Homo sapiens: one gene and its partners. The protein of the gene in region 3 interacts with the protein of the main gene of each other region in a pairwise test. Each region holds a gene or a part of one and is shown on either strand. Other genes may lie near its edges.

What was found.
Region 1: the proteins of TLNRD1 (region 3) and CCM2 interact in binary tests that used the Homo sapiens proteins (3 or more experiments, as listed by UniProt).
Region 2: the proteins of TLNRD1 (region 3) and SH2B2 interact in binary tests that used the Homo sapiens proteins (3 or more experiments, as listed by UniProt).

What each region holds. Positions count from the first base shown.
Region 1 is NC_000007.14:45,003,145-45,010,294, reverse strand, and holds part of CCM2 (cerebral cavernous malformations 2 protein), read right to left. Parts: intron 1-7,150. UniProt on the Homo sapiens protein: Component of the CCM signaling pathway which is a crucial regulator of heart and vessel formation and integrity. May act through the stabilization of endothelial cell junctions. May function as a scaffold protein for MAP2K3-MAP3K3 signaling.
Region 2 is NC_000007.14:102,296,846-102,303,995, forward strand, and holds part of SH2B2 (SH2B adapter protein 2), read left to right. Parts: intron 1-3,676; coding exon of another isoform or gene 3,677-3,705; coding exon 3,706-4,434; intron 4,435-7,150. UniProt on the Homo sapiens protein: Adapter protein for several members of the tyrosine kinase receptor family. Involved in multiple signaling pathways. May be involved in coupling from immunoreceptor to Ras signaling. Acts as a negative regulator of cytokine signaling in collaboration with CBL.
Region 3 is NC_000015.10:80,996,872-81,003,984, forward strand, and holds the start of TLNRD1 (talin rod domain-containing protein 1), read left to right. Parts: upstream 1-4,051; 5' UTR 4,052-5,270; coding exon of another isoform or gene 5,271-5,400; coding exon 5,401-6,489; 3' UTR 6,490-7,113. Other genes in the region: umcharacterized LOC128071545, read left to right, coding at 5,271-5,408. UniProt on the Homo sapiens protein: Actin-binding protein which may have an oncogenic function and regulates cell proliferation, migration and invasion in cancer cells.

The DNA of each region.
Region 1 (7,150 bases), on a different chromosome or scaffold from region 3:
TTATTTCTTAGTAGGGGTTTCAGTTACGTAGGAGTATGCATTTGTCAAAATTTAGCTAATATTCACTGAAGATGTGTATTATTTGGCCAGGAGCAGTGGCTCACGCCTGTAATACCAACACTTTGGCAGGCCGAGACAGAAGGATTGCTTAAGCCCAGGAATTCAAGACCAGCCTGGGCAACACAGTGAGACCTCGTCTCTACAAAAAATAAAAAAAATTAGCTGGGCATGGTGACAAACCCATTTAGTCCTAGCTACTGAGGAGACTGGGGCGGGAGGATCACTTGAGTCTGGGAAGTCAAGGCTGCAGTGTGCCATGATTGCACCACGGCACTCCAGCCTCTGTGACAGAGTGAGACCCTGTTTAAAAAAAAAAAAAAAGTGTGTATTTCATTGTTACATAATTTTACATCAAAAGAAAACTGTAAGCAAATATTGAACCCTAGTTAATGACATGCATGCTAATGTATTTAGATCAAAGTGAAACAATGTCTGCAATTTATTGAGGAATGCATCAGAAAAATAAAATGAGTTGATGGGCAGGTACAGTGATAAACAAATGCTAGATATGGGATAAAACAAGTATAGCCAGGCCAGGCAGGGTGGCTCATGAGTGTAATCCCAGCACTTTGGGAGGCCGAGGTGGGCGGATCATCTGAGGTCAGGAGTTCTAGACCAGCCCCACCAACATGGTGAAACCCTATCTCTACTAAATACAAAAACTTAGCCAGGCGTGATGGCACATGCCTGTAATCCCAGCTGCTGGGGAGGCTGAGGCAGGAGAATCGCTTGAACAAAGGAGGCGGAGGTTGCAATGAGCCGAAATCACGCCATTGCACTCCATCCTAGGTGACAGAGTGAGACTCCGTCTCAAAAAAAAAAAAAAAAAAAACAAGTATAGCCAACGTTAGTGGCAGAATCTAGGTGCAAGTATTCACTGCAAAATTCTTTCAACTTTGGTGTACTCAAAAATTTTTTTTTTTTTTTTTTTTTTGAGACAGAGGCTCCCTCTGTCGCCCAGGCTGGAGTGCAATGGCGCAATCTTGGCTCACAGCAACCTCTGCCTCCCGGGTTCAAGCGATTCTCCTGCCTCAGCCTCTGGAGTAGCTGGGATTACAGGCACACACCACCATGCCCTGCTTATTTTTGTATTTTTGTAGAGATAGCATTTCGCCATGTTGGCCAGGCTGGTCTTGAACTTCTGATCTCAGGTGATCTGCCTGCCTTGGCCTTCTAAAGTGCTGGGATTAGAGGCGTGAGCACCGTGCCTGTCCCAAAAATTTTCATCATAAAATGCTGAGGGTGGAAGAATGTGCTGGAAAAAGCAAACACGGAGGCTGCACATACCTCTTTCAAGAAAGACGGACAATACTAAGTGAGAGGGGGAGCCTTAGAAAGGAACTTGAACTCAGCCTGATATTAGAAGTGCACAGGCAGGTGGGCTATGGTTATTGTCTATACCCAGTAGCATGAAAAGTAAAAGCTATGTAAAGGTGATGTATCTAATGGCAGTAATAAATTAGCTAGACATAATCATATCTAGGGCATTTTCAGACATCTGACAGAAAATCAACATGCACCATAACTGACACTTAGACCTGACCAAGGCATCTCATTAAGAACATGTACCCTTGGCCGGGTGCGGTGGCTCACGCCTGTAATCCCAGTACTTTGGGAGGCCGAGGTAGGTGGATCACCTGAGGTTGGGAGTTTGAGACCAGTCTGACCCACATGGAGAAACCCCGTCTCTACTAAAAATACAAAATTAGCCGGACTTGGTGGCGCATGCCTGTAATCCCAGCTACTTGGGAAGGCTGAGGCAGGAGAATCGCTTGAACCTGGGAGGTAGAGGTTGTGGTGAGCCGAGATCGCGCCACTGCACTCCAGCCTGGGCAAGAGCAAAACTGTCTCAAAAAAAAAAAAAAAAAAAAAAAAAAAGAACATGTACCCTTGGCCAGGCACGGTGGCACACAGAGGCACACATTGGTCAGGACTTCGGGAGGACGAGGCGGGTGGATCATGAGGTCAAGAGATCAAGACCATTCTTGCCAACATGGGGAAACCCCATCTCTACCAAAAATAAAAAAATTAGCCGGGCATGGGAACACGCACCTATAGTCCCAGCTACTTGGGAGGCTGAGGCAGAATTGCTTGAACCCAGGAGGCGGAGCCTGCAGTGAGCTGAGGTCATGCAACTGCACTCCAGCCTGGGCAGCAGAGCAAGACTCCACCTCAAAAAAAAAAAAAAAAAAAAATGTACCCCACCACATAAACCAACAAGGGAAACATTTCAGTTTCCACACCTGACCAGAGAGCTCATGGTGACAACACACAGGAAGCAAATTTGATTTTTTGAAAAAAACCTGTATGGAATTTTAAACTATAGAATAGACATAAAGATTTAAATAAAGGCTTCTCTCTTTTTTTTCTCCAAGGTACAAAAACAACATGTGAAATGGTTATCTCCCACTCCTCAACTAGGTTTCCCTTAAGAACAGTGACACCACGGGTTTAGGCTGACCAGTCTTCTCACTTTCAGAAAAGTGAAAAACCTCCTTGGGTTACAAGACACACCATCATCCTAAGCTGCAAACAAAAGCCCAAATTCCATGTTCCTATTATGCTTATTAAAGGGGATCACTTTCATTGCACATACATCTAATGCCTATGGTCAAATGCCCTAATTCTTAACATAATCCAAGCAAAAAATTGTTACTGTTTGGGCACACTTGGGAGAAAAAAAAAGGTCACATTTTTGGCACAGACACAAGGCTAAGGAAAAAAGTTCTTATTTTTACAAAACAAACAAACAAAAAATCCTAATGGTTCCATTGACAAATCCAAATGTAAACTCCCTCATACCTGTAGAATCATTTGAAGAGCAGTTGCTGTTCTTGATTGAAAGATAAAAAAGCCAAGGAGTGCGAAGCGCGCTAACAAAGATCCACTGTTCACAAGGACACAGCGATGCATGCAGAGGACATGGCTGGGCTCACTGCTCCCGCCACAGATCCCAGAGCACAAAGCCTGTCCCAGATGAAATGAATGACATCCCTGACTGTGCCAGCTCCCAAAACACCATACATGTTCTCCCAACCACAAAGAGTGTGCTGTGATTTATGGTTTACATACAGCACAGTGAGGGTTGTCCTGTCACTCTGAGCAGCTCGTCCGTGGCCATGTTGACAGTGTAGACTTGGTCCTCAGAACTCACCCCAGAGACCCTAAGGCAGCCAGCAGATGAGGCCAGAATGACCAGCAACATAAGGCTTGTTACTCTTCTGTCTTGATGAGTTACTACTGCACTTCTATCTACAAACTGAACTCTAGGGTTTGCTTCAAAATCACCTGGTGCATTAGCCTTCTTGGGCTGCCAGGACTAAGTATTATAGACTTGAGTGGCTTCAATAATAGAAACTTATTCTCTTAGAGTCTAGATGCTGAAAGTCCAAGATCAAGGTAAATTTAGCAGGGTGGTTTCTCCTGAGGTCTCTCCTTGGCTTGCAGATGGCTGCCTTCTCCATGAGTCCTCCAATGATCATTCCTCTCTGTGTCCTAATAACTTCCTATAAGGACATCCATCAGATTGGATTAGGGCCCACACAATTACCTCATTTTACCTCAATCACCTCCTTAAAGACTCCATCTTCAGGCCAGGCATGGTGGCTCAAGCCTATAATCCCAGCACTTTGGGAGGCCGAGGTGGGTGGATCACGGAGTCAGGAGATTGAGACCATCCTGGCTAATACGGTGAAACCCCATCTCTACCAAAAATACAAAAAAATTAGCCAGGTGTGGTGGCGGGCACCTGTAGTCCTAGCTACTCAGGAGGCCGAGGCAGGAGAATGGCGGGAACCTGGGAGGCGGAGCTTGCAGCGAGCCAAGATTGCACCACTGCACTCCAGCCTGGGTGACAGAGCAACAAGACTCCGTCTAAAATAAAAACAAATAAAAAAAAAAAGACTCCATCTTCAAATACAGTCACATCCTGAGGTCCTGGAAGTAGGGGCTTCAGCACATGACTCTGAGGGGACACTATTCGGCCCACACAGGCAGGAAGCAGGAATGAGGAGAAGGTGCACATGAAACTGACTGCCCACACATGGGCACAGGGGACTTCGTTACATGATTTTTTTTCTTTACATTTGCTTTTGAAGTTTTCATAAAGGTGTTCCTGATCACTCTTACCAAAGCCTGCTCCCACCATCCATCCCCGGGCTCCACTTCCTGCTCTGCAGCCACAGGCTCACCGTACACATTTCAGTCTCCAGCATCTGTGTCTGACACCATTGGTGCTAATAAACAATAGTTTAATGGACAAGTGAATGCATGATGTGGAACACCTCCAGTGGCTTCAAGTGCATACAGAACCAACACCCAACTTCCCAGCCCAAGGACTTCCCAGGACTGGGGGGTCCTCTCCACCTCATCTCTGCTTCTGAACTGCAGGACACAGTCCCGGTCTCAACCTGGCTGGAAGTGGCTGCTGCCTGCCCCATGTCTCTTCTGACATCCTAGGTCTGCCTTTAGTCTCTAATTTTAGGTGTAAGTGACCTACTTTCCAAAGTGCAATGTCCCTAACCCTCTTCTCAGTGGGCTAAGCACATAATAGGCAAGGCATGACCAAGTTATCTCACTAAAAACTTGTATCGCCACCACGTAAACCAACAATAGAGGGTGATTTAAATGCTCAATAGTTAGGTTTATAGGACTTAATCATGACCATTTACTTACACTGCAAAGTGACAACAAGGAGGGGGCACTGCTGACGGAAATGAAAAAACTGGAAGATCAAGAGTAAGCGCCCCAGTGGGGCAGACTGCAGACGCCCTTCTCGTCTGCAGGGAAGCCCTTCACTGCAATAATATTGCTAAGAGAAACGTTTTGCTTTACACTATCTTCCTCTGAAAGGATGCTCAGAGCAGCCCTGGAAGGTTCTGATGTGCTTTCTGAATCTAAATTATGACAGAATCTGACAATATGTTGAAAATTAACAAATACATACTATGTAAATGGTAACTCTTCAAGACAGAAAAGTAACCAGCCTTATGTTGCCGATCATTCTGGCCTCACCTACTGGCTGCCTTAGGTTCTCTGCTGAGCACCTCCTGCCTGGTTCTCCAGCCTCCTGACCCTGAGTTACCAAGTTGCCATCCAAGAATCACTGCAATAGCTACCCAAGAGGAAAAATAAAACAAAATATAGCAGCCCCAATTCACCTTCTGAACCCAAGTATGGCTTGTGACAGTTATAGAATCGGTTTAGTGGGTCATGACCATGAGCCTTTTTTTTTTTTTTGAGACGGAGTCTTACTCTTGTCGCCCAGGCTGGAGCGCAATGGCACATTCTCAGCTCACTGCAACCTCCATCTCCCGAGTTCAAGCAATTCTCCTGCCTCAGCCTCACAAGTAGCTAGGATTACAGGCCCCACCACCACGCTCAGCTAATTTTTGTATTTTTAGTAGAGATGGGGTTTCACCATGGCTGGTCTCAGACTCCTGACAGGTGATCCACCCACCTCAGCCTCCCAAAGTGCTGGGATTACCAGTGTGAGCCACCGCACCTGGCCAACCACCAGTTGTAATAGAAAGAAAAAAAAATAGAATTAAAAAATCAGAGCGTTTAAGTGTGGTTCCTTTAAACTTTCACTTCGGTTATACAGACACACACATTTATGTCTGCATCAGGTCAGCATGGAGAAGGTATGGCTTCCTGGTGCCTGCAGTGACCAAATTTTAAAAGGTACTGGTCCAATCCAAGCTTTCAGTTCCTCACAGACACTGGTCCAGCAGTGACTACAGCAGCTGATAGTTCAGGGCCTGTAACCTAGAGGATCTTTTCCCCTCCACTTTTTATTATGGAAATTCTCAAAAATACATAAAAGTAGACAGAACAATATATAACCATTACCAAAGCATTCAGCTATCCCCTTTGTTTCTTCTATTTTGAGTAAAGCAAATCCCAGAAATCATATTATTTCACCTACAAATATCTCAGAATACATGCCTATCAGATCAGAACTTAATTATCATACCCAACAAAATTAATAATTCCTTATTTATTATTTAATATCTAGTCCTACATTTCTAGGGAACTTTATAACCTTTTTTTTCTCTTTTTCTTCTTGAGACAGGGTCTTGCTGTCACTCAGGTGGTGGCACAATCACACTCACTGCAGCCTCGACCTCCAGGGCTCAAGCGATCTTCCCTTCTCAGCATCCCAAGTAGCTGGAACTACAGGCATGCACCACCATGCTCAGCTAATTTTCTTATTTTTTGTAGAGATAGGGTCTCACTACATTGTCCAGGCTGATCTCAAACTCCTAGGCTCAAGTGATCCTCCCACCTCAGTCTCCCAAAGTGCTGGGATTACAGGCGTAGCCACTACACTCAACCTATAACCTTTTTCTACCTTAAACAATGCAAATAAACTAGATGAATGTAAAAATATTTAACTTTGATCAGTGTGAAATCATAGCCACCTGGTGGGGCAACCGAAGACCAGAGGCAGCAGAGAAGCTGAGACCCACAAGGTTAAGGCCACAAGATGGTTTTTTTTTTTTTTTGGAGATGGAGTCTTGCCCTGTTGCCCAGGCTGGAGTACAGTGGCATGATCTCAGCTCACTGCAACCTCCACCTCCCGGGTTCAAGAGATTCTCCTGCCTCAGCCTCCTAACTGGGATTATAGGCACATGCCACCACGCCCAGCTAATTTTGTATTTTTAGTAGAGACGGGGTTTCACCATGCTGGCCAGGCTGGTCTCAAACTCCTGGTGTCAAGTGATCCGCCTGCTTCGGCCTCCCAAAGTGTTAGGATTACCTACACCCAACCCTGACAAGACAGCTTTTTTGGGCTGTGATCTGAGTATAAAAATCCACACAACCCAACTTAAGTGCATCCAAGTTTCTAATAAAAAGGAATTACTGTCAGGTGCGGTGGCTCAGCCACCCAGCACCTTGGGAGGCCAAGGTGGGTGGATCACCTGAGATCCGGAGTTTGAGACTAGCCTGACCAACATGGAGAAACCCCGTCTCTACTAAAAATACAAAAATTAGCTGGGCATGATGGCACACGCCTGTAATCCCAGCTACTCGGGAGGCTGAGGCAAGAGAATCACCTGAACCCGGGAGGCGGAGGTTGCAGTGAGCT
Region 2 (7,150 bases), on a different chromosome or scaffold from region 3:
GCTCTTGCCTGTAGTCTGAGCTACTCGGAAGGCTGAGGCGGGAGGATCGCTTGAGCCCAGGAGTTGGAGGCTGCAGTAAACTGTGATCTCGCCACTGCACTCCACCCTGGGAGACACTGCAAGACTCTGTCTCAAAAAAAAACAAAAAACAAAAAAACGCTTGGTTCTTATCCACAGCTTTGCTTTCCAAGGCTTCAGATACCCGTGGTCAACAGAGGTCTGAAAATATTAAATAGAAAATCCCAGAAGTAAACATACAAATACAAATGTAAATTGCAGGCCAGTCTGAGTAGCAGGATGAAGTCTCAAACCATCCCGCTGTTCTGCCTGGGATGTGAATTATCCCTTTGTCTGGCATATCCGCACTCTGGATACGACCCGCTCGCCACTTAGGAGTTGTCTGGGTTATTAGATCCAAAAAAAATGTAGCGGGCCAGGTGCAAGTGGCTCGTGCCTGTAATTTCAGCACTTTGGGAGGCCAAGGCCAGAGGATTGCTTGAACCCAGGAGTTCAAGACCAGCCTCATCAATAGAGTGAGATCCCATCTCTACACACACACACACACACACACACACACACACACACGCAGTATACAGAGGTTCAGTATTAGCCAGTTTCAAGCATCTGCTGGGGTTCTTGGGACATATACCCCTTGAACGAGAGGGAACTACCATATTTGATCCACACTAGGAGGAGACCCCTCAAGTCCTGGAGTCACTGCAGACCTGGGCGAGAACCCTGGACCTGTCTTGTCACTAACAAGCTGTTTGTCCTTAGGCCCCAAGTGAGGGCTTAGGCGGTGACAGCTGTGACATGCCTGGTGTGCCAAACTCATTCATTTGTTCATTCAGTCAGTGTTTCCCAAGCGCCTGCTGTATGCCCAGCACTGAGGACACAGCCGCTTCTAGGACTGGCAAAATCCCTGCCTTGTGAAACTGGCATTCTCGGGGGAAGGGGGTGGAGGGGACACACAACCAAGCAACTAAATATATGATATGACAGCCGGCAATAAGGATAATGGTGAAAATAGGCAGAGTGCATGAACGCATCAGAGGGAGTATTGTCATCAGAGGGATTTGTCATTCTCAAGAGTGGTCAGGGAAGGCTATCCGCCAAGCCATTGGTTGAGCAGAAACCTGAAGAAGGTGAGGGAATGTGGAGGAAAGAGCATTCCAGGCATGTGCAAAGGTCCTGAGGTAGAAATTTGGCTGCTATGCTTCTGGGAGGGCAAGGAGGCAGGTCCAGCCAGGGAAGAGTGGCAGGAGGTATATCCAGAGGGGTAAACAGAGGCAGATTATGTCAGACCCTAGGGGCTGTGGATAGGGCTTTGGCTTTTACTCTGACTGTAATACGAACCACTGCAGGATTTTGTGCAGAGGAGGGATGTGATCTGTCTTGTATTTTGGTTTTGGGTTTTTGTTTTTGTTTTGTTTTGTTTTTGAGTCAGAGTCTCTATCACCAAGTGAAGTGCATTGTCACGATCATAGCTCACTGCAGCCTCCAAATCCTGGGCTCAAGCGATTCTGCCACTTCAGTCTCCTTAGTATCTAGGACTGTAGGCATGCCACCACATCCAGATTGGTTGTTGTTGTTGTTTTTGAGACAGAGTCTTGCTCTGTTGCCCAGGCTGAAGTACAGTGGTGCCATCACAGCTCACTGTAGCCTCAACCTCCCAGGCTAAGGTAATCCTCCTGAGTAGCTAGGACTATAGGCATGTCACCACATTCAGATCAACTTTTTTTGTTTATTTTTTGGGACAGGGTCTCGCTCTGTCCCCAGGCTGGAGTACAGTGGCCCCATCACAACTCACTGTAGCCTCAACCTTCCAGGCTCAGGTGATCGTCCTGAATAGCTGAGACTACAGGTGTGTGCCACCTTGCCCAGCTAATTTTATGTATTTTTTGTAAAGACAGGCTTTTGCCATGTTGCCTAGGCTAGTCTTGAGCTCCTGAGCTCAAGCAATCTGCTCACCTTGGCCTCCCAAAGTGCTGGAATTACAGGCCAATGTGTAAGCCAATGTGCCCGGCCAAGACAATTTTTTTGTTATTACTTTTTCTTTCTTTCTTCTCTTTTTTTTTTTTTTTTTTTTTTTTGAGATGGAGTCTCGCTCTGTCGCCAAGGCTGGAGTGCAGTGGCGCGATGTCGGCTCACTGCAAGCTCCGCCTCCGAGGTTCACGCCATTCTCCTGCTTCAGCCTGTGCCTGCCCCCACGCCCGGCTAATTTTCTGTATTTTTAGTAGAGATGGGGTTTCACTGTGTTAGCCAGGATGGTCTCGATCTCCTGACTTCGTGATGCGCCCGCCTCGGCCTCCCAAAGTGCTGGGATTACAGGCATGAGCCACCGCGCCTGGCTTTTTTTTTTTTTTTTTTTGAGGTGGAGTCTGGCTCTGTCACCTAGGCTGGAGTGCAGTAGTGGGATCTCGGCTCACTGCAACCTCCGCCTCCTGGGTTCAAGCGATTCTCCTGCCTCAGCCTCTCAGTCAGCTGGGACTACAGGCATATGCCACCATGCCCAGCTAATTTTTGTATTTTTAGTAGAGACGGGGTTTCATCATGTTGGCTAGGATGGTCTCAATCTCTTGACCTCCTGATCCACCCGCCTCGGCCTCCCAAAGTGCTGAGATTACAGGCATGCGCCACCGCACATGGCAGTCTTGAGTTTTGGAAATGACTGGGCTCCTGGGAGGAGAACAGACTTTAGAGGAAGTAAGATCAGGATCCCGGGGACCATAAAGCAGCTGCTGGAGTGCTGCATGCAGGAAAAATAGTTATGCGAATCCCAGGACGGCAGCCTGGACCTGGAGGAAGGAGCTGAGTCCTCGGTATATTTCAAAGGTCCAGCCAGCAGGATTCCATGTGATTTCTTCCTTTCTACCGGGCTTTGGGGAACATCAGAAGAGGTCACTGAGGAAGTGAGGTCACCAGAGGCTCATGGGGACCCCACTTGAAAGCATCCATCATCCCAGCCTCTTCTGCCAGCCCCAGGAATGACCCTGAGGTCCCTGAGACTACTATTTGGGGAGAGAATGAATGCAGGACTGCCCCTTCTGCAGACACCACCTCCTGCCTCCCCAGTTGTCTTTCTCTTATTTTTTGCAGTCTCCCTCTGTCGCCCAGGCGGGAGTGCAGTGGCGCAATCTCGGCTCACTGCAACTTCTGCCTCCTGGGTTCAAGTGATTTTCCTGCCTTAGCCTCCGGAGTGGCTAGGACTACAGGCGTGTGCCACCACTCCTGGCTAATTTTTGTATTTTTACTGCAACCTCTGCCTCTTGGGCTCAAGCAGTTCTCCTGCCTCAGCCTTTCGATGGCTAGGGTTACAGCGTGCACCACCACACCCGGCTAACCGGCTAATTTTTGTATTTTTAGTAGAAACGGGGTTTCACCATGTTGACCAGGCTGATCTCGAACTCCCAACCTCAGGTGATCCACCCACCTCGGCCTCCCAAAGTGCTGGGATTACAGGCGTGGGCCACCGCGCCCGGCCCCAGTTGTCTTTCTCTTTACACACATCCATGCTGCTTGGAATGGCTGCCTGCTGTAGTCCCACAACACACACGTGTGCATGTACACACACACCCACACAGCCCCAGAGAGTCCTAGGGGAGCTGGAAGGAGGGGACAGGTGGGCGCATTGATCACAGGCCTGAAAGTCACTGCGCGCTCTTCTCGCCCGAAGCCGCAGGTGGCTGCGATGGGACGGAAGCCATGAATGGTGCCGGCCCTGGCCCCGCCGCAGCCGCCCCGGTCCCAGTCCCGGTCCCGGTCCCGGACTGGCGGCAGTTCTGCGAGCTGCATGCGCAGGCGGCCGCCGTGGACTTTGCGCACAAGTTCTGCCGTTTCCTGCGGGACAACCCAGCTTACGACACGCCCGACGCCGGCGCCTCCTTCTCCCGCCACTTCGCCGCCAACTTCCTGGACGTCTTCGGCGAGGAGGTGCGCCGCGTGCTGGTGGCTGGGCCGACGACTCGGGGCGCGGCCGTGAGCGCAGAGGCCATGGAGCCGGAGCTCGCGGACACCTCTGCACTCAAGGCGGCGCCCTACGGCCACTCGCGGAGCTCGGAGGACGTGTCCACGCACGCGGCCACCAAGGCCCGCGTTCGCAAGGGCTTCTCGCTGCGCAACATGAGCCTGTGCGTGGTGGACGGCGTGCGCGACATGTGGCACCGGCGCGCCTCGCCCGAGCCCGACGCGGCAGCTGCCCCGCGCACCGCCGAGCCCCGCGACAAGTGGACGCGGCGCCTGAGGCTGTCGCGGACGCTGGCTGCCAAGGTGGAGCTGGTGGACATTCAACGCGAGGGGGCGCTGCGCTTCATGGTGGCCGACGACGCGGCCGCGGGCTCCGGGGGCTCGGCTCAGTGGCAGAAGTGCCGCCTGCTCCTGCGCAGGGCTGTGGCCGAGGAACGCTTCCGCCTGGAGTTCTTCGTGCCGCCCAAAGTGAGTTACCCCATAATCCCACCTAGCCTGGGGGGACCAGAGGAGGCACCTGGGCAGCAGCTGAGGGTGCCAGGGACTGCCTTTGGGGACCGCGTGGTCTAATCTGGTTGACAGGGTGAAGTATTTGGTGCCAGGACCCTGGGAGGTGGGCCTGTCATGCCTCTTGAACAAGTCACCCCTTCAACCCCGGTTCTTCCTTTGCGAGGAAGGGTCCTCTGGCTACACCAAAGGGTTCTGGGGCACTAATTTTTTCTTTTCGTGTGTGTGTGTGTGTGTGTCCGTGTGTGTGTGTGTGTGTGTGTGCGCGCGCGTGTGTGTGTGTCCCTCTGTCACCCAGGCTGGAGTGCAGTGGTACGATCTCGGCTCACTGCAACCTGTGCCTCCCAGGCTCAAGGGATTCTCCTGCCTCAGCCTCCCAGGTAGCTGGGATTTACAGGCACCCACCACGATGCCCGGCTAATTTTTGTATTTTAAGGAGAGACAGGGTTTTGCCATGTTGGCCAGGCTGGTCCTGAACTCCTTACCTCAAGTGATCTGCTTGCCTCAGCCTCCCAGTGTTGGGATTACAGTCGTGAGCCACCATGTCCAGCCTTTCTTTCCTTTTTGTTTTGAGACAGGGGCCGTCACTCAGGCTGGAATGCAGTGGTACAATCATGGCTCACTGCAGCCTTCACCTCCCAGGCTCAAGCAGTCCTTTCTTAGCATCCCAAGTAGCTGGGACCACACACACCGCCACTCCCAGCTAATGTTTTTTATTTTTCGTAAAGACGGGATCTGACTATGTTGCTCAAGTGGTCTGGAACTCCTGAGCTCAAGAGATCCTCCCCCACCTTGGCCTCCCAAAGTGCTGGGATTACAAGCATGAGCCACTGTGCCCAGCCCAGGGCACCGTTCTTGATGTTGTTCAAGAGCCTGGCTACCTGCCCTCCTCTCCTGCAGCCCAAGGGTGCCTGGCACCTCCCAGAGCCGAGGCCTGCAGGGATGAGGGCAGGAGTGACCGAGCACATTCGCAGAGGGCTCCCTGGGAGGTCTGTGTCTGACTCCATGGGGCTCTGCTCTTCCCCAGCTCAGCTGCCAGACTCCAGCCCAGCCCCTGCCCAGGGGGTCCTTTTCTGGCCAGGGGGATGCCAGGCTTCTTTCTGGCTGTCACCAACATTGTTGCTCACTGGCATGCACTGACCCTTCCCCTCTTAGGGGCTGGCCATCAGGTCCCTGGCAGTAGTGTCACGTCTTCTCCAAGGTGGCCCCCCTGCTTTGGAAAGTGGGAATAGCTGTAACAATAGTGCCCACCCTCTGAGAGCCCACAGTGTGTCCAGACCCCAGCCTGGTGGGCATCTGCACAGACACACTGTCATCCTCTGGGTACCCCACCCCAGCGAGGTGAGCACATGGTCCCCAGATTACAGAAGAGAGCGCAGACAGATGCTCAGAGAGGGAAGTGTGGCCTGCCCAACGTCACCCAGCTGGCGGGTGCCAGAGCTGGTCTAACATGGCAGGACATGGTGGCGCGCACCTGTAGTCCAAGCTACTTGGGAGGCTGAGGCAGGAGAATCGCTTGAACCCAAGAGGCAGAGGTTGCAGTGAGCCAAGACTGCACCACTGCCCTCTAAGCTAGGCGACAGAGTGAGACCCTATCTCAAAAAACCAAACCAAAACAAAACAAAAAACTGGGGGCCGAGCGCGGTGGCTCATGCCTGTAATCCCAGCACTTTGGGAGGCCGAGGCAGGTGGATCACCTGAGGTCAGGGGTTCGTGACCAGCCTGACCAACATGGAGAAACCCCGTCTCTAATAAAAATACAGGATTACATGCCTGTAATCACAGCTACTTGGGAGGCTGAGGCAGGAGAATCACTTCAACCCAGGAGGCAGAGATTGTGGTAAGCCGAGATCACGCCATTGCACTCCAGCCTGGGCAGCAAGAGCGAAACTCTGTCTCAAAAAAAAAAAAAAATCCGATCTAATGATACCTGCCACCCTGGTGGTCCCAAGAACGAAAGGAACATGGAAGTGGAGGTCCTTGGGCACTGAGAGGTTTAGGCAGGGGGAGGTTTTGCTGGTGCAGCAGCCGACAGCACCCCCAGGGACCACCGGGGACCCCACACCCACCTCCCGCATCAGGGCCCACTCTGTCCCTGGGTGCTCTCTGAGTCACCCGCCGCTTCTTGGCTCTCTCTCCATCTCTCAGTCTGCTGGGGTGCAGGGGTGTGGGCTCCCCAAGGCTCATTGCCCATGAGCCACATGGGCCCTGGAAAAGTGACTTCCCAGGGACACAGCTACTCTCTGAAGAGCTTTTTCCCCAGGTCCCAGCACCCCTACACTTCCCTAGGGCTTTTTTCCTGCCCAGGCCCCTGCCTTTAATTCCCTGGGAGAAATCCTAGACCCCTAAGCCCGACTCCACTCCTTGTCAGAAAGGGAAACCGAGGCCCAGTGACGGGTGGGGTGGGGCTTACCCGGGGTCACCCAGAGGGCAGGGACAGAAGCCCAGGGCTCCAGTGCCTTGGGCCTGAGTGACAGTCACAGCTGCCCTTCTGTAAATAGCAGTGTCTGCTGCCCTCGGAGAAGGGGAAGGAGCAGCTGGTGCCCGCCCCCGCCCCACTCCACCGCTTAGTCCCAGCAGAGCCCACTAATTTTGCTGCTGGCAGAGGGCAGCGTTCCTGCAGGGTCACTGGGCCCTTCCCCTCCTTTGTGTCATGCAAAGGTGGGGGCATTTGTGG
Region 3 (7,113 bases):
CAGTGAAACCCCGTCTCTACTAAAAATACAAAAAAAAATTAGCTGCGTGTGGTGGTGGGTGCCTGCAGTCCCAGCTACTCGGGAGGCTGAGGCAGGAGAATGGCATGAACCCGAGAGGCGGAGCTTGCAGTGAGCCGAGATCGCGCCACTGTGCTCTAGCCTGGGAGACAGAGCCGGACCTCGTCTCAAAAAAAAAAAAAAAAAAAAAAAAGATATTATGTTAAGTGAAATAAGCCAGGCACAAAATAACAAATATTGTATGGTTCCACTAACATGAGGTACCTAGGGTAGTCAAATTCATAGAGAAAGTAGAATGGTGGTTGCCAGGGACTGGAGGAAGGGGGAGTGGGGAGCAGTTACTTAATGGGTATGGAGTTTCAGTTGGGCAAGATTAAACATTTCTGGAGATAGAGGATGGTGATGGTTGCACGATAATGTACTTAACAATGGGTAAGATGATATTATGCTATTTTACCACGATTTAAAACATAAAAACAAAACAGAATGCCCATAATGTTCTCTTATACCAAGTGGTGGATGCACCTTCTAAAACAGGCAAGAGACGAGGTAAAAGATGTTTCCCCAATCCTGCCTGTCTCAACCTGTCAGTTCCTCTTGTCCTGCCCAAATCCTCAGTTCTCTCTTTGCAACTTGTTCACTTACTTTTCATCAGATGCCTATTTCAGTGTAGGCCTTGAGCCAGTATTGAGAATGCATTCTCTAGGGGCCAGGCCATTTACCAGCTCCCTCTCATCCACTCCATTTACCTTCCCTCAGCCAATCCTCAGTCCACACATTTTCCGCTTTCTTCTCTCACTCAACATCCATTAAAAAAAAAAATACTTAGTCCATTTGAGCTGCTATAACAAAATACCTTAGACTGGGTAATTTATAACTAATAGAAATTTATTGCTCACAGCTCTAGAGCTGGGAAGTAGAAGATCAAGGCCCCAGCAGGGGCCCATTCCTCATAGATGATGCGTCCTCTATGTTGCTGCATCCTCCCATGATGAAAGGGCAAAAGAGGTGAACAACTCTCTCACACCTCTTTTATAAGGCCACTAACCCCATTCAAGAGGGCTCCACCTCATGACTTAACCATCTCCCAAAGGCTCACCTTGTAATACTGTGACACTGGTGATTAAGTTTTAACATATGAATTTGGGGGTCAGATCACAGCAAATACTTTTGATTTATATTTATTTTAATTTTGAGAGGGTTAGAAGGGGTAATAGGTGGAGTTTTCTAAAGAAAAAGCCATTGCTTGAGTGACTCTAAGGGCAGACACCAACAAGCCATCCTCTAATTAGACTAAAAATATGCAACAGCAACAGACAACCCTCAAATCTCTGTGACTTAACACACCAATAATTTACTTTGTGTTCACATTGCATGTCCACTACAGATCAAGAGGGTCTGCTCCACATGGTCACCTAAGCTTACAGAGGCTCCACCAACTAGAATGCAGTCTCCGTGGTAGTTATAGGAGGGCAAGAGAGTGGAGAATTACAGATTGGCTTTTCATTGTCTCAGCCTAGAAGTAACCTGCATAGCTTCCCCTTACATTTCATTGGTCAGACAGAACCACATGGCCCTGCCTACCTACAAATATTGTATCTGTGAAGCCTGATTATCTCTGCTATAGGTTTTTTACTCTGTGCTCTCACTGTGCCAATAGTGAAATTGTGGCTGTTTCTTGTGAATCTACTCCTATCCCTGGACTCTAAAGAGTGGGGGCCTCATATTACAAATTATGTAACTTTGGTGCCTAGCACAAGACTGGTGCCCAGTGATTGTGGAGTGATTGAACAATCGGACAAAGTAAAGGTGAACCTAAAGAAAGGTGGAGGCAGTGCCTGGGAGGATCAGTTTAGGAGCTTCCCTATCTGAAAAATGAAGCAGGGAAGGCCGAGAAAACAATGCTATCAGTTTTAAAAATGAAACCAAACCTCACTGAATAGAGTGGACAGTCTGTGTGTAACACAACTCATTGTCGGGGTGGGTTTCCATCAACAACAAAACAGACTGCATATGTAGAAGAAAGGGAAAATGGGACCCCCAGGGGCACTACGTGGCTTTGGAAAAAAAATCTGATCTTAGAGCAGCCTCAAGAATAAACTAGGCACAGAACAGTCTGACTTCCCTCTCATAAGTTTTATTTATTTATTTATTTATTTTTTTTTGAGACGGAGTCTCCCTCTGTCGCCCAGGCTGCAGTGCAGTGGCGCGATCTCCGCTCACTGCAAGCTCCGCCTCCCGGGTTCATGCCATTCTCCTGCCTCAGCCTCCCGAGTAGCTGGGACTACAGGCGCCCGCCACCATGCCCGGCTAATTTTTTGCATTTTTAGTAGAGACGGGGTTTCACTGTGTTAGCCAGGATGGTCTTGATCTCCTGACCTCGTGATGCGCCTGCCTTGGCCTCCCAAAGTGCTGGGATTACAGGTGTGAGCCATCGCTTTCGGCCCCCTCTCATAAGTTTTTGGAGCTTAAGAAGGACTAAGGTGCAATCCCTGGGTCACCATGGAAAAACCTTGACTTATCCAGCTGTTTTTTTTTTCTCTTGTAGAAGAAAAAAAGGAATTAACCCTACATAATTACTTCCTATTTCAAGTCAGTTTTATTGACCTCGGTTTGCAAACTAAGTGGGCTCATCCGGATTCTAAAGATATTTAAGGATACTTTCAGTTATAAGTAGGATGACTATCCATCCAGGTTTGAACCTGCTGTTCATGGTTAATTTATTAATAGCATGTCTCACAGTTCATTCTCAGAAATGCTTGGATATGGCCGATAAATTGAAACGTCATCCTAGTTAAAAGTAACGTTTTTAACTGGCTGGAGAAAGGTGACTTGGGGTTCTAGGAAGGGACAGAGGAACAAACATTCTGTTGGCTCAGCACGCCCAGCCTGTGTTGGGCTGGGCACCTTAGAGGACCTGTTTCAGGACTGCGTGACTGGCGTTTTGCTGGGAGTAGCCCAGGTGTTTTAACCACTTCCTGAAGAACAAGGTTCGGTAAAAAGAGGCTGGGGCGTAGGCGTGGGTTCCTGTCCCTGCCATATGCTGTCTTCCTGATCTTCGGAAGTCACTTCAAGCACCTGATCATCAGTTTCCTTATCTGTAAAACTGGAGTAGTAATGTTTCCCTCCAAACGCCGTCGTATTTAATTCATTTAACAGCAGCCACTATTATTCCATTATACAGACGAATAAATAGACGTTATGAGAGGGCAAAGTGCGCTGATCAGGGCTCATAATAATTCTAACAGCTACTGTTTAGGAACCAAGTACTCAAGCAGCCTGTGCACAATCTCTAATTTCTAGAAGAGAAGACGGATACTTGGAAAGAGAACTTGAACAATGTCATGGAACTCATAAATGGCTTGAGAAAGGCTGATCCTAGGAAATCTGCTTCAGAACCCGCGCTCTCACTGCATAAGGCGTATTTCAAGGGAGGAACGGGCAGGCATCTAGCACCACTCTTCGGACTCCCCATCCAGTGCTCTTTTCCTCTTTTCGTTACACTGCACTGCTGGTCGGAAACCCATCGTGGAAGTGGATCAAACACAACAAAGGGCAGGGGGCGTTGGAAAACCGGGCGAAGTCGCGCAGACCGAGACGACCCACCGGCCCCAGCAAATCACCAGGGGCCGAAATCCAGTGTCCTCCTCCCTTCAGCCCAGAAGCCAGGTCACCTTTTAGACTTGCTCTCTTGGCGGGGAGGAAGCGTGGAGCCCCCTGGTCCGGCTAAGAGCTTACGTAAGGCCCGCGGGCGGCTGCGCCCCGGTCTCCCATGGGTGTGCGCAGAGCCCCCGGGCCGGAGCAGGCCTTCCCCTGTCCGCTCCCCCAGTCTCTCGGCCCAGGACCACGGGGGAGTTCAGGACCACCGGCCCCACGCCGGCAGCGTCCGCGTTGGGCGGCGGCGTCCCCCGCAGCCACCCAGCTTCCCGGGGGAGGAGCAGCGCATCGCGCAAGCATCCGGGAGCGGCGGAGGGGGCGGGAGGAAGGGCGAGAGGAGGAAGCGGGATTTAAACGAAAGGCGGTGACGCCACACAAAAGATTTCTATAGGCTCCAGGGAGGTTACGGCCGAGGCGGCGGCGGCGGCGAGCCCGGGGGCGAGGCGCGGACGGGAACAGGAAAAGCCTCCGGCAGCCCCTGCGGGCGGCGGCGCAGCCACGGCCGCGCTCCGAGGTGAAGCCGCGCGCGGAGAGGAAGCGGGTGTTTTCCCCTCTGCCTTTCGGCCCCCGCCCTTCCTTTCAGTTTCTGCCCGCTCGCTCGGAAGTTGGCGGTTGACAAAAATGGCAGGAGCCGGGGCCCGGGCCGGTTGCCGCAGCGCCGCGGGGACCTTCTGAGTTGGCCCGGTGGCAGGGAGACTCGTGCAGGGGCGTCCGATGCGCGGGGCCCGGGGCCTCGGGAGAGCTCAGCTGCTGCGGGCCCCAGACGAGGCGACAGGGATGGACTTGCGTAGACAGCCAGCGCCGGGCCGCCGGGCGCGCGGTCTGGGAGGGCGTGCCGCCGCGGCGCCGGGCCGCGCTCTGTGAACCGGCGAGGCGGGAAGGGGCCGCCGTGGTGCTCGGCACGCCCGGGCGTGTGGCGGGCGGGCGAGAGCTTGAGCGCGATCCGGGCGGCCGCTGTGCGCAATCAGTGCAGGCTCCCGCCCGACTCTGACTCGGCGCGGCCGCGACAGTGCCGGCCACACCCTCTGCCCCGCTGCCGCCGGCGCCGCTTCCCAAGAGCTGGAGGCAGGAGATGCGCCCGGGGCGGCCGCGCGTCCCAGAGAGCCAGCCCCGGCCGCCGTCGCGGGGAAGTGCCGCCTGGTGGGGTCACGGCGCCTGAAGCCCACGTGCGCCGCCGAGCCCGAGGTGGCCTCGAGCGCGGCGGCTGACAGCACAGCCCGCCTGAGCTGCCTCCCGCGCTCCTCCCCGAGGAAAGGATTTTGATTTCAAAGAAAGGAAGGAAGGAAGGACAACTCCCAGCTTCCCCGTCCCGCCCTCCCCGCTCCGAGGGCCGCGCCAGGCCATGCCCAAGAAGGCGGCGGCGGCGGCGAACCAGCAGAAGGGACTTTCCTGGCAGCCCGGCGACGAGGAGCGCGGACAGTGAGTTTGCTCTGCCCCGGTTCATGGTTCCTGCAAGCCCTCTAGGAGGCCGAAAGCTGCAGCCCCTCCCCTTGCCCCGAAGAGCCTTCCGCGTTCTCTCGCCCTCGGGCCCACCCCGCGCCGCCCGGGCTCCCGCCGCCGCAGCCCAGTGCCCTCTGCCCGCGGCGGTGGATGGCATGATGGTGCGGGGAAGGCACCGCGGCCTTGGCCAGCTGAGTCGCGACGGCCGCCGGGGCGGCGGCAGTGGCCGCGGCAGCGGCGGTGGTAGCGGGCTCCCCAGCGGCATGCCAGTGCCCCCCGGGCGCGATGGCTAGCGGCAGCGCCGGGAAGCCCACTGGCGAGGCGGCTTCTCCGGCTCCTGCGAGCGCCATCGGCGGGGCCAGCTCGCAGCCGCGGAAGAGGCTGGTATCCGTCTGCGACCACTGCAAGGGCAAGATGCAGCTGGTGGCTGACCTGCTGCTGCTGTCGAGCGAGGCGCGGCCCGTGCTCTTCGAGGGCCCCGCCTCCTCTGGTGCCGGCGCCGAGTCCTTCGAGCAGTGCCGGGACACCATCATCGCGCGCACCAAGGGGCTCTCCATCCTCACCCACGACGTGCAGAGCCAGCTCAACATGGGCCGCTTCGGGGAGGCGGGGGACAGCCTGGTGGAGCTGGGCGACCTGGTGGTGTCGCTGACCGAGTGCTCGGCCCACGCGGCCTATCTGGCCGCTGTGGCCACGCCGGGCGCCCAGCCCGCGCAGCCGGGCCTGGTGGACCGCTACCGCGTGACGCGATGCCGCCACGAGGTGGAGCAGGGTTGCGCCGTGCTGCGCGCCACGCCGCTGGCCGACATGACGCCGCAGCTGCTGCTGGAGGTGTCGCAGGGCCTGTCGCGCAACCTCAAGTTCCTGACGGACGCGTGCGCCCTGGCCAGTGACAAGTCACGGGACCGCTTTTCGCGGGAGCAGTTCAAGCTGGGCGTCAAGTGCATGAGCACCAGCGCGTCGGCGCTGCTGGCCTGCGTGCGCGAGGTGAAGGTGGCGCCCAGTGAGCTGGCGCGCAGCCGCTGTGCGCTCTTCAGCGGGCCCCTGGTGCAGGCAGTGAGCGCCCTGGTAGGCTTCGCCACCGAGCCGCAGTTCCTGGGTCGCGCGGCAGCTGTGAGCGCCGAGGGCAAGGCGGTGCAGACCGCCATCCTGGGCGGCGCCATGAGCGTGGTGTCGGCCTGCGTGCTCCTGACCCAGTGCCTCAGGGATCTGGCGCAGCACCCCGACGGGGGCGCCAAGATGTCGGACCACAGGGAGAGGCTGAGGAACTCGGCCTGCGCCGTGTCTGAAGGCTGCACCCTGCTATCTCAGGCTTTAAGGGAGAGGTCTTCGCCCAGGACTTTACCGCCAGTGAATTCCAATTCTGTGAATTAGCACCCCACCCCCATACCCCTTCTTCCACCCCCAGACTAAAGGAAGATACTTACTCTCTGCCCCTCTCCATTTATACCAAAGAAATCATAGGTGAAACCCCCTACCCTCCCCAACGTTAAATGCTCGAGAGGAATCTTCCACAAGGCAGGGCCATGCACGCAACCTGCACACGCACTTGGAGGGCCCAGGTGTCTCTCCACCAGCCCCCATGCAGTAGGGACTGGAAGATATGTCATCTGCTGGTTGTGTTATCACTCCCACCCCCTACCCCAGCCCGTCTTCCGGAATTTCTCAACTAAATTTCATTATTGGGCAGGAAGGAGGTCATGGGTTCATTTCATTTTTGTTTTTTGTGTTTTTAATTAAAAGAAAGGTTACCTCAGTTTTCACTCCTTAGACATGGATGTAGCTACCTTTTTTTGTATGTCTTTTTTTTTTTTAAGCAATCGTGTTGAATTAGGAGTATACTTGGTGTGGAAAGAGTATGAATTTGCCATGTGATTTGCAAATGGGGGGAAGCTACTGTGAGCGTGTGTTTTTTTAATTTACACTATAGAGTGATTTTTTTTTCCCCCAACGTCAAGTTTTTACCTTGCATGTACTGGAGTATTTATTTCATCTATT